Linked DNA regions of Homo sapiens: all the other regions are linked to region 4. The links come from fine-mapping of genetic effects on gene expression. A gene starts in region 4. Each other region holds a variant in brackets. All regions are shown on one strand. Distances are from middle to middle.

What was found.
Region 1: its variant is fine-mapped to the expression of TRABD in whole blood (TOPMed, PIP 0.99).
Region 2: its variant is fine-mapped to the expression of TRABD in sun-exposed skin (GTEx, PIP above 0.99).
Region 3: its variant is fine-mapped to the expression of TRABD in monocytes (Fairfax 2014, PIP 0.95).

What each region holds. Positions count from the first base shown.
Region 1 is chr22:50,046,731-50,049,411 of GRCh38, forward strand. TTLL8 (tubulin tyrosine ligase like 8) reads right to left here. Exons shown (of 14, transcript NM_001350317.3): 5 at 2,519-2,592; 6 at 438-566. Among named protein-coding and RNA genes, the nearest start is that of TTLL8, 10 kb to the right of the region's middle. The variant T/C (reference allele first, on the strand shown) is at 1,639.
Region 2 is chr22:50,212,490-50,215,170 of GRCh38, forward strand. All of the region lies in intron 5 of SELENOO (selenoprotein O), which reads left to right. Among named protein-coding and RNA genes, the nearest start is that of SELENOO-AS1, 3.6 kb to the left of the region's middle. The variant AT/A (reference allele first, on the strand shown) is at 1,325.
Region 3 is chr22:50,108,591-50,111,271 of GRCh38, forward strand. MOV10L1 (Mov10 like RNA helicase 1) reads left to right here. Exons shown (of 27, transcript NM_018995.3): 5 at 67-254. Among named protein-coding and RNA genes, the nearest start is that of MOV10L1, 20 kb to the left of the region's middle. The variant A/G (reference allele first, on the strand shown) is at 1,352.
Region 4 is chr22:50,184,330-50,187,010 of GRCh38, forward strand. TRABD (TraB domain containing) reads left to right here and starts at 1,584. Exons shown (of 10, transcript NM_001320485.2): 1 at 1,584-1,647. RefSeq lists silencers at 757-826, 1,017-1,116, 1,387-1,756, 2,023-2,332.

The DNA of each region.
Region 1 (2,681 bases), 140 kb before region 4:
CCTGGGCAGGCCTCAGCCCTGGGCCTTGGTGGGAAGGGTGTGGCAAGCTGCTTTGTGCAGGGCTGGAGGCCGGGGGAGGCGGGGGAGTGCCCGGTGCTGGGGGGAGCGGCACCTCTTCCCCTGGGGTCCCACAGCCCCCTCAGCACCCAAAGCCCGGTGGCAGCCCCCAGTCAGCCCCATCTTTGGCCTCTGTGCCCTGAGGAGGGAGCTTCTGGGGCCCCGGATTCACCCAGAGACACAGAGCAAAGGGCACAGGGGTGCTGGGGGTGGGGTGGGCACCGAGTGATTCTGGCCACGGCCTTAGACCAGGAGTCCTGGGATGCACCCAGGAGGTGACTGGTGGCCACTGACCAGCCACCGAGGGTCCCTAATGGCTGCAGAAGCTCCTCCCCACCACCCTTGCCGGCTCCCGCCACGCTCAAGCGCGGCCGGCTCACCTTGGTGGTGAAGGAGGCTGTCTTTGCGTAGTGGTTCAGCATCTGGTCGTAGGTCAGGCTGTGATAGTCAATGATGTCCCTCTTGATGGTCCAGAGGAGGTACGGCATCTCATTTTTTACCAACCTAGACTGGCAAGAAAAAAGTCTTTATTGATGCCCAGCATTCAAGGTTCACACCAGCCAGGATGGGATGGAGTGAGGCAACCATCAGAGGACAAATGGCGTGCAGCGTGAGGATCCCAGCCGGGCTCTGCTGCAGGCAGTAGTGCTCCTTGTGGGCCTCCTGCACATGGGATGTGGGGCGCAACCAGGACCACATACGGTTTCCACAGAGGGGCCTCGGGCTCTGGGGGGCCACCCCGATGTGGGGCTGCAGGTGGGGTCTGAGCCGTCCGCATGGGGTCTACGTGGGTGTGGGGACGTGCCACTTGCCGAGGTGACACGACACTTCATAACCCAGAGCTTACAGTCCCCAGGACCGAAGCCCCCAGGCCTGTACCATGGGCCCTGCACACCCCTCCCTGAGCCCCAGGCACTGGCCTCCCGCTCCTCCCCTGCTGATAGAGGGGTTGGTCGTGGAGCTGGGGGCCTGTTGTTGGTGCTTTTCTGTTTATAACAATGGCATGTGTTAAGTCAAAATTCCAACCAGGCTGGGTGCAGTGGCTCACGCCTGTAATCCCAACACTTTGGGAGGCCAAGGCAGGCAGATCACCTGAGGCCAGGAGTTCAAGACCAGCCTGACCAACATGGTGAAACTCGTCTCTACTAAAAATACAAAAATTAGCCGGGCGTGGTGGCGGGCGCCTGTAATCCCAACTACTCCGGAGGCTGAGGCAGGAGAATCACTTGAACCCAGGAGGCAGAGGTTGCAGTGAGCCGAGATTGCACCATTGTACCCCAGCCTGGGCAACAGAGTGAGACTCCATCTGAAAACACCCCCCCAAAAAAGTGTGTGTGTGTGTGTGTGTGTGTGTGTGTAAATAATAGCATACTAATCACTAACCACTGGGTACTGGGGTGAGAAACAGCATCGTCAACAGAGCCGAAGTCCCCCAGCCGCCCCCACCCGGTAACTGCCACCTGCTTCTGTCTGTCCTCCAGGCACAATGAGCAGAATGTTTCTGTCTCTCTGGAATGCATGTGCTACAATCCTCATCCCCAGGGCGATGGCATAGGAGGCTTTAGGATTAGGTCATGAGCC[T/C]GAGCCCCTTATGATGGGCTAGCACCCTTATAAAAGAGGCCCCAGAAAAACCCTCGCCCCTGGGTGAGGACGCAGAGAGAAGCCAGCCGTCCATGAAGCAGGACACTCTCACAGCACCCAGCCACACTGCCCCAACCCAGACTCCAGCCTCCAGAACAGTGAGGAATGTTCTGATGTGTCCACACCACTGCCCACGGACCTGTGGGAGCCGCTGGAGCACCCAGGATGCTCTGTAGGAATGGCACTGACTCCAGGAACCTGGAAGGGCGAGCTCACTGGCCATGTGGGAGGCGCCTCATCAAATCTGGGCCCATTTTTCTATTTGTCTTTTCATTACTGATTTGTGAGTTCTTCATATATTCTGGACATTTGATCTTTTAAATTTTAAGTACTGCAAATGCCGCCTCCCACCCTGGTTTCTCTTTCGCCCTCTTTATGGTGGAGTGTTGGGAGCCCCGGAGGGACTAGGCTGGGCTGGGGAGGTGGGGAGGCACATACTACTGTGTTGCTGGAGACAGGAGCTCACTCGCTGGCCAGGCCCCATCCTGCAACACACCAGCCGGGCTGTCCGAGCCCTGCCGGGCCTCAGTGCCCTCAGCTTCCACATGCGCACAGCAGGCCAGCCCAGTGTGGGTGGAGGGGAGCTGGGAGCACCGGGTCCACCCACTACACAGCGGCTCATCCAGCACCGAAGGGCTCGCCCCACCCCTGGGGGCAGCCAGGCCCTGCTGCCCGGTCAAGGGGCCCTGCTGTGACTGGGGCTTTGCCCTCGCCGGGCTGCCATCCCCCCAGGACATGGGAGAGTGGGCACGGAGCAGGGCGACGGTGTGAGAAGCTTTGGAGAGGCCGCAGCTGACCATGACGCATGCAGGGGACGTACCATCACGTCGTGGATGTTGTCTGTTTTCTCCAAAGCCATTTCTTGATTTTCTTTGACTTTGGCACATGTATCATCTGCCAACAAAACACAGGGGAGGCCTGAACATGAAGCCTCAGCCAGACTTCCCGCACCGGGTCCGTTACCACAACCGCAGGCAGGACAG
Region 2 (2,681 bases), 28 kb after region 4:
CTTAAATTGTGGAGGGCACCGCACATCACAGCTGACGCAGGAGCAGTGCTGTACAGCCGAGCCCTGGAGCTTGTTCACATCCGCCACCCAAACCCTGTGTGAGCCGGTTACCAGCTCCCCATTCCCCTCCCTGCAGCCCCTGGTAGCAACCACTCCGCTCCGAGTCTGTGAACCTGACTGCTCTAAACCCTTCATGTAAGTGGAGTTACACAGCGTGTGCCTGTTTCTTCAGTCTGTTGTCTCCCTCTAATCTTCGTGTAAGTGGAGTTACGCAGCGTGCGCCTGTTTCTTCAGTCTGTTGTCTCCCTCTAATCTTCGTTTAAGTGGAGTTACGCAGCGTGTGCCTGTTTCTTCAGTCTATTGTCTCCCTCTAATCTTCGTGTAAGTGGAGTTACGCAGCGTGTGCCTGTTTCTTCAGTCTATTGTCTCCCTCTAATCTTGGCTCTTCTTTCTCCAGTTCCTTAGGCGTGAGTTGAGGTAACTGATTGGAGATCTTCTTCAGTGTAGCCATTTACACTGTGCATGTCTTTCTGGTCACTGCTTTTGCTGTGTCCATCAATTTTGGTATGTTGTGGGTTTTTTTGGTTTTTAGACGGAGTCTTACTCTGTCGCCCAAGCTGGAGTGCAGTGGCATGATCTTGGCTCACTGCAACCTCCGCCTCCCAGGCTCAAGTGGTTCTCCTCCTTCAGACTCCCAAGTAGCTGGGACTACTGGCATGCTCCACCACACCTAGCTAATTTTTGTACTGTTAGGAGAGATGGGGCTTCACCATGTTGGCCAGGCTGGTCTCCAACACCTGATCGCAAGTGATCTGCCTCAGCCTCCCAAAGTGCTGGGATTCTGGGGATGAGCCGCCGCGCCCAGCCAGTGTGTTGTGTTTTTAAGTGATTTCTAGCTTCATTCCATTGTGACTAGAGATGTCAGCCTTTTGAGGTTTATTACAACTTGTTTTGTGGCTTATCTTGGAGAACTTTCTGTGTGCCCTGGAGAAGACGGTGTGCTCTCTTTTGCTGGGCAGAGCGTCCTGTACCCGTGTGCCCTGGAGAAGACGGTGTGCTCTCTTCTGCTGGGTGGAGGGTTCCGTGTATGTGCCTGTTTGGTCTTGTTGGTTTAGGCTGTTGTTCAGGTCTTCCATTTCTCATTGATCTTCTGTCTGGATGGTTTTTTTGTTTTTTGAGACGGAGTCTTGCTCTGTCACCCAGGCTGGAGTGCAGTGGCGCGATCTCAGCTCACTGCAAGCTCCACCTCCCAGGTTCACGGCATTTTCCTGCCTCAGCCTCCCGAGTAGCTGGGACTACAGGCGCCTGCCACCACGCCCGGGTA[AT/A]TTTTTTGTATTTTTAGTAGAGACGGGGTTTCACCGTGTTAGCCAGGATGGTCTTGATCGCCTGACCTCGTGATCCACCTGCCTCGGCCTCCCAAAGTGCTGGGATTACAGGCATGAGCCACCGCTCCCAACCCTAGATGGTCTATCCATTATTAAGTGGTGTGTTTAAGTCTCCAACTCTTACTATAGATAGAACTGTTTGTTGTCTGTCCCTTCCATTCTGCCAACGTTTACATTTTTGGGCTTTCTTATTGGGTGCATGTTTATAATTTTTACATTTTTATTGATGAATTGACTCTTTTATCCATATATAATGCTGTCTCTTGTAACGACTTTTTGTTGAGGGTGGATGTGTCTCACTTTGTTGCCCAGGCTGGAGTGCAGTGGCACAGCTGCGGCTCACTGCAGCCTCCACTTCTTGTGCTCTAGTTATCCTCCTGCCTCAGCCTACCAAGTAGCTGGGATTACAGGGGTGAGCACCTTTCCCGGCCCTTCTGACAATTTTTTATTTAAAATCTTCTCTGGCCGGGCATGGTGGCTCATGCCTGTAATCCCAACACTTTGGGAGGCCGAGGCAGGCAGATCACCTGAGGTCAAGAGTTCGAGACCAGTTTGGCCAACATGGTGAAACTCCATCTCTACTAAAAATACAAAGATTAGCCAGGCATGGTGGTGGGTGCCTGTAATCTCAGCTACTCAGGAGACTGAGGCAGGAGAGGCGGAGGTTGCAGTGAGCTGAGATCACGCCACTGCACTCCAGCCTAGGCAACAAGAGCAAGACTCCATCTCAAAAAACAAAAATTAGCCAGGCATGGTGGCGGATGCCTGTAATCCCAGCTACTCGGGAGGCTGAGGTAGGAGAATTGCTGGAACCCAGGAGGCGGAGGTTGCAGTGAGCCGAGATTGCGCCACTGCACTCCAGCCCCGGCAACAGAGCAAGACTCCGTCTCAAAAAATAGAAAACTTATCTGCTGTGAGTTTAAGAGTCGCCTCAGCTCTCTTTAGGTTACTCTTTGCCTGGGTTTCTTCATCCTTTCACTTCCAGCCTGTTCGTGTCTTTGAACGTCTTGCAGATCGTGTGGTGACAACATGGAAATCGTCTTTTCACCCACTTTGCCAATCTGCCTTTTGTTGGAGCGATCAGTCCATTCGCTTTCAAAGCAGTTACTGAGGGGGAGCTTCTGCCATGTTTCTGGTCGCTCACGTTCTCCCTTGCTACCTTTGTGTGTAGTCGACTTTTTTGCAGTACGTTGCTTTGACTCCCTTCTCATTTTGTTTTTAAGACAGTCTTAGGGTCACTGTGGTTTCAGACAGTGTTTTCCAGAGTCAGGGGGAGGATCGCAGTGTCTGTCACAA
Region 3 (2,681 bases), 76 kb before region 4:
TGTTAGAGCTGCGCCCTGTCGTCATGCAGCATCTGCTTCCTGTGACGCTCAGCTCTCTGCTCCCAGGTCTGCATCTCTAGCCTCTGTGGAAGGAACGGGGTGTTAGAGGAAAGCATCTTCTTTACCTTGGACTCCTTGAAACTGCCAGATGGGTACACACCCCGGAGAGGTGACGTGGTCAATGCAGTGGTGGTGGAGAGCAGCCAGTCATGCTATGTCTGGAGGGCACTTTGTATGACCCTAGTGAAGAGGCGGTAAGAAAATGCTTTTCTGGCCAGGTGCGGTGGCTAACGCCTGTAATCCTAGCACTTTGGGAGGCTGAGGCAGACGGATCACCTGAGGTTGGGAGTTCAAGACCAGCCTGACCAACGTGGTGAAACTCTGTCTCTACTAAAAGTACAAAATTAGCTGGGCGTGGTGGTGCTCGCCTGTAATCCCAGCTACTCGGGAGGCTGAGGCAGGAAAATTGCTTGAACCTGAGAGGCAGAGGTTGCAGTGAGCTGAGATTGCGCCACTGCACTCAGGCCTGGGCGACAAGTAAAACTCCGTCTCAAAAAAAGAAAACGCTTTTCTTCTTTGGGATGTGAAAGGCCCCATATAAGTATATTTTGAAGAGTTACTTTAATAAGCCAAATAGTAGACATTTCAAGCCCTGAGTTGTTGGGGTAAGAGGAGAGCATCCCTAGCACTTCAGGAGGCCGTGGCAGGAGAATTGCCTGAGCCCAGGAATTTGAGACCAGCCTGGGCAACATAGTGAGACCCCATCTCTACAAAACATTAAAAAATTAGCCAAGCGAGGCCGGGCACGGTGGCTCACGCCTGTAATCTCAGCACTCTGGGAGGCCGAGGCGGGTGAATCATGAGGTCAGGGGATCGAGACCATCCTGGCTAACACGGTGAAACCCCGTGTCTACTAAAAAAATACAAAAAATTAGCCGGGCGTGGTGACGGGCACCTGTAGTCCCGGCTGCTTGGGAGGCTGAGGCAAGAGAATGGCGTGAACCCGGGAGGTGGAGCTTGCAGTGAGCCGAGATCGCGCCACTGCACTCCAGCCTGGGCGACAGAGCGAGACTCCTTCTCAAAAAAAAAAAAAAAAAAAAAATTAGCCGAGCATGGTGGTGTGCACCTCCGGTCCCAGCTACACACGAGGTTGAAGCAGGAAGATTGCTTGAGCCTAGGAGCTTGAGGCTGCAGCGAGCTGTGATCGTGCTACCGCACTCTAGCCTGGGCAACACAGCAAGGCTCTGTCTTAAAAAATAAAAAGAGAAAGGAAAAGGAGGCTGGTCATGGTGGCTCACGCCTGTAATCCCAACGCTTTGGGATGCTGAGGCGGGTAGATCATGAGGTCAGG[A/G]GTTCGAGACCAGCCTGGCCAATATGAAGAAACCCTGTCTCTACTAAAAATACAAAAATTACCCGGTTGTGGTGGCAGGCACCTGTAATCCCAGCTACTTGGGAGGCTGAGGCAAGAGAATCACTTGAACCCAAGAGGCAGAGGTTGCAGTGAGGCGAGATTGCACCACTGCACTCCAGCCTGGGTGACAGAGGAAGACTCTGTCTCAAAAAAAAGAAGACTGTCTTGCCGGGCGCGGTGGCTCACGCCCGTAATACCAGCACTTTGGGAGGCCGAGGTGGGTGGATCACAAGGTCGGGAGATTGAAACCATCCTGGCTAACATGGTGAAACCCCATCTCTACTAAAAACACAAAAAATTAGCCAGGCGTGGTGGCCGGCGCCTGTAGTCCCAGCTACTCGGGAGGCTGAGGCAGGAGAATGGCGTGAACCCAGGAAGCGGAGCTTGCAGTGAGCCGAGATCGCGCCACTGCACTCCAGCCTGCACAACAGAGTGACACTCCATCTCAAAAAAAAAAAAAAGACTGTCTTTTGGAAGCTTTCAGCCATCTCTATGGTTGACTGAAGGTGGAGTTAGGGGTCGCTCTTCATCCTTCATCTTACATTGGTGATTGCTGTTTTGGGTGGATTTTTCTGTTTTGTTGTTTCACATTTTGGCATTTAAAAAATGCATTGGATGTAGTTGGTTCTTAAAATTATTGGATTTCTGGCTGGCCACAGTGGCTCACGCCTGTAATCCTAGGACTTTGGGAGGCCAAGGCGGGCGGATTGCCTGAGCTCAGGAGTTCGAGAACAGCCTGGGCAACACGGTGAAACCCCATCTCTACTAAAATACAAAAAATTAGCCAGGCGTGGCAGCGCACACCCTTAATCCCAGCTACTCTGGAGGCTGAGGCAGGAGAATTGCTTGAACCCGGGAAGCAGAAGTTGCAGTGAGCAGAGATCACGCCACTGCACTCCAGCCTGGGTAACAGAGCCAGACTCCATCTCCAATTAAAAAAAAAAATTATTAGATTTCCTGTATCTGTGTTCTTCTTTGTGTGCTAGCCATGACGAGGCTTCCCTGAGCTCCCTACTTGTGGGGCAGCCCCAGCTCTGACCCACCCCCTCCCTGCCTGCCTTTCCTCCTGTAACCAAAAGGTATGTGAGACAGGTCTCAATCAAGTTAGAAGTTCACTTTGCCAAGGTGAAGGACATGCCTGGGAAAAAGGACCACAAATCCACAGGAACCATCTGTGGTTCATGCCTTTTTCCAAAGATGATTTTGAGGCCTTCAATATTTAAAAGAGAAAAGTGGGCTGGAGGAGAAAGAGGGTGCGGTCACATGACTG
Region 4 (2,681 bases):
GGGGCCTCCCTTCCTGGAGCCTGGAAGGAAGCAGGCTCCCCAGCACGGAGTCCTGGTGGACGGCCTCAGGCAGACCCAGACCAAGCCTGGGCGCTGCGTTGGACTCCCCCAACCCCAGGCCTGCTGGGTCAGCCTTCCAGGCTCGCTGAAGGTTCCTGCGTGGGGCAGCCCTCACTGAGGTCCTCCCCGTGGCTCCAGAGAGGAGCTAGTCCTAGGGCACTCGAGTAGAGAGGTGCGCCCTCCTCCCTCTTCTAAATGGTTCCCCAGCTGGCCCCACCTGGCCCCTTTCCCCAACTAACTCATCAGTGCCTGGCAGGAAGACACAGCAGCCCTCCCCCGGTGACTGGAGTCCTGGCCCCAGGGCAGGCCCCGCTCCAAGAACCTGATCCTTTGGCTGGGGCAGGGCCGTAGAGGTGGGCGCAGAGCTTCGGGGAGCTGGCTGTGGGGTCCGCGCATGCAGCCCGCAGGCAAACCATTGCCAGGCCCACGCCTGCACTAAGCCCAGCGCCAGCGCCAGGTCAGCCAAGAACCCGGGGTCGTGGAGGAGGAAGGAAGTCGTGGGCCCGGGATGCGCGGCCGGACCATTGCAGGAGAGCGGGGCAGGCGGACGGCGCAGCAGCTTGCGGGCAGCGAGTCGTCTGCATGCGGCGGCGAAGCGCCCGGGCCCCCGTCCGCGCCGGTGCCCGCAGCGCGCAGCAACTTGGCCGCCGGGTCCCGGCCGCCCCGGTAGAGGCTGGGTACAGCGAGGGGGCCGGGCGCCCGGGCAGGACGGGCGCGGCGGGTGGGGCCTGGCCGTCTCCCCCTGCCCTCGGGGCCGAACACGCACAGCGAGAGTCTAGCGTCGGCGTGGCTGCGGCCAGCCGGGTCCCCCTGGAGGCCTCCGGACGATCGGAAGTGACTGAGCGTCCGGGTCCGTGAGGCCGGGGGTCGGCCCGCCCTAAGACTCCCACCTGGTCCCGGTTCTCCGTCCGCTAGGCTGGCCGCGGGGCCCCTGGGGCCCGACCTTCCCGGGGTGCCCCAACCTGCGGCAAGGCCGAGGTCCCGCTGAGGCATGAGTCCCGGGTCGGGGACCGCTCTGGGCCGACCCCCGGAGGACGGACTAGGCCGATCCCCAGAGGGAAGGGGGCCAGGCCGAGGCCATGGCAGCGCGTTCCCTGATCCCGTGTTCTCGGCTCCTCGCGTCCCACTATCGGCTGTCCCTTTCGTGCGGGACTGACGGCTCACAGAACAGTTACATTTCAATATCATTCGACTGAAAACCATCCTGTGGACGCCGTGCGAGCATTGTCCCCATTTCACAGCTTGGGAGCTGCGACCAGAGAACGTGGGCGCGCCTCGCAAGGCCGTGACCGCGGCGGGACTCGAACCCTCCCTCCTGAGTGCGCGCCGATGTTCCTTAGGACCCGGGAGCGCCGGGGGGGGGGGGGGGGGCGGGGGCCCCGCGCGCTACCCCCTGGGAAGTGTAGTCCGAAGTTGCGGGCCGGGGCCAAGCAGGAGGCGCGTGGGACTACACTTCCCGGCATGCCACGCGGCCGCCGGCGCCCTCGGCCCGTCCGCCCCGCCCCGCCCCGCGGCCCCAGCCCGCCCCGTCCGTTGAGGGCCCGCGCCGCATGGAGGCCGGCTGAGGAGCGCCGCTGCCTCGCCTCGGTACGCCGCGCGGCGCGGACGGCGCGTGCGTGAGGACGGGGCCCAGCACCGAGCGGGGGGCGGGCCCGGGTCAGGGCCGCGGGGTGACTGTGGGGGGCGGGGGGAGCGAGCCCGAGTCGGGGGGTGGGGGCCGGGGGCGGGGGGGGTCAGGCCCGGGTCAGGTTTTGGGGCCGGGGTAGCAGGTCGTGGGGGTCAGGCCCGGATCAGGTTCAGGTTTTGGGGCCGGGGGAGCAGGTCGTGGGGGTCAGGCCAGGGTCAGATTCAGGGTTTGGGGCTGGTAGACCAGGGTCGTTGGGGGCCGGGCCCGGGTCAGGTTTGGGGGCCGGGGTGGCAGGTCGTTGGGGGGGCCAGGCCCGGGTCAGGTTTTGGAGCCGGGGGAGCAGGTCGTGGGGGTCAGGCCCGGGTCAGGTTTGGGGCGGGAGCAGGCCCCGCGCGTCCCCTGCCACCGCTGCCGGGAGCGGCGCTGCCGAGGAGCGGAGCCCCCCAGGGCTGGGGCGGGGAGGGTCAGCGGCGGCCTCGCGGGAAGGCGCGGGTCGGACCTCGAGTCCCAGGGTCCTCGCGGGTCGGGAGGGCCCCAGCCACCCCCGCCTGCCGCCTGCGGTGGAGCCGGCCGAGGTGAGAGTGGAGGAAGGCGGCCCAGGCCTGCGGGTCTCTGGGGGTGCTGGGGGAGGCCGAGCGGGAGGCCCCGGACCCCCGTTGTCCCCTCCGGCCCCGCTGAAACCTGGGGCTTCGCTCTTCTGTAGGTGCCTTTGCCCTTCAATTGGAGCAGAGCGGGGTTCCCATATGGGCGAAGTGGACGCCAGATCGTCCCCCGCTGTGCGCAGCCCAAACTTAAAAGGTCTTTTTAACTGAGCTATCATGAAGCTGCCGTGTGTCTTTGTCAAAACTCTTACAAGAAAGATGGAGTGGGAGCTGTCTGGGCACTAGCGTCCCAGAAACAACCAGGAACTTGTGGAGGTGCTAAGCTCCCTGCGGGGACTCCCGCAGCCTCGGTAGCCTCCAGATGGAAGCCTCCTAGCTTTCAGGTCCCTGAA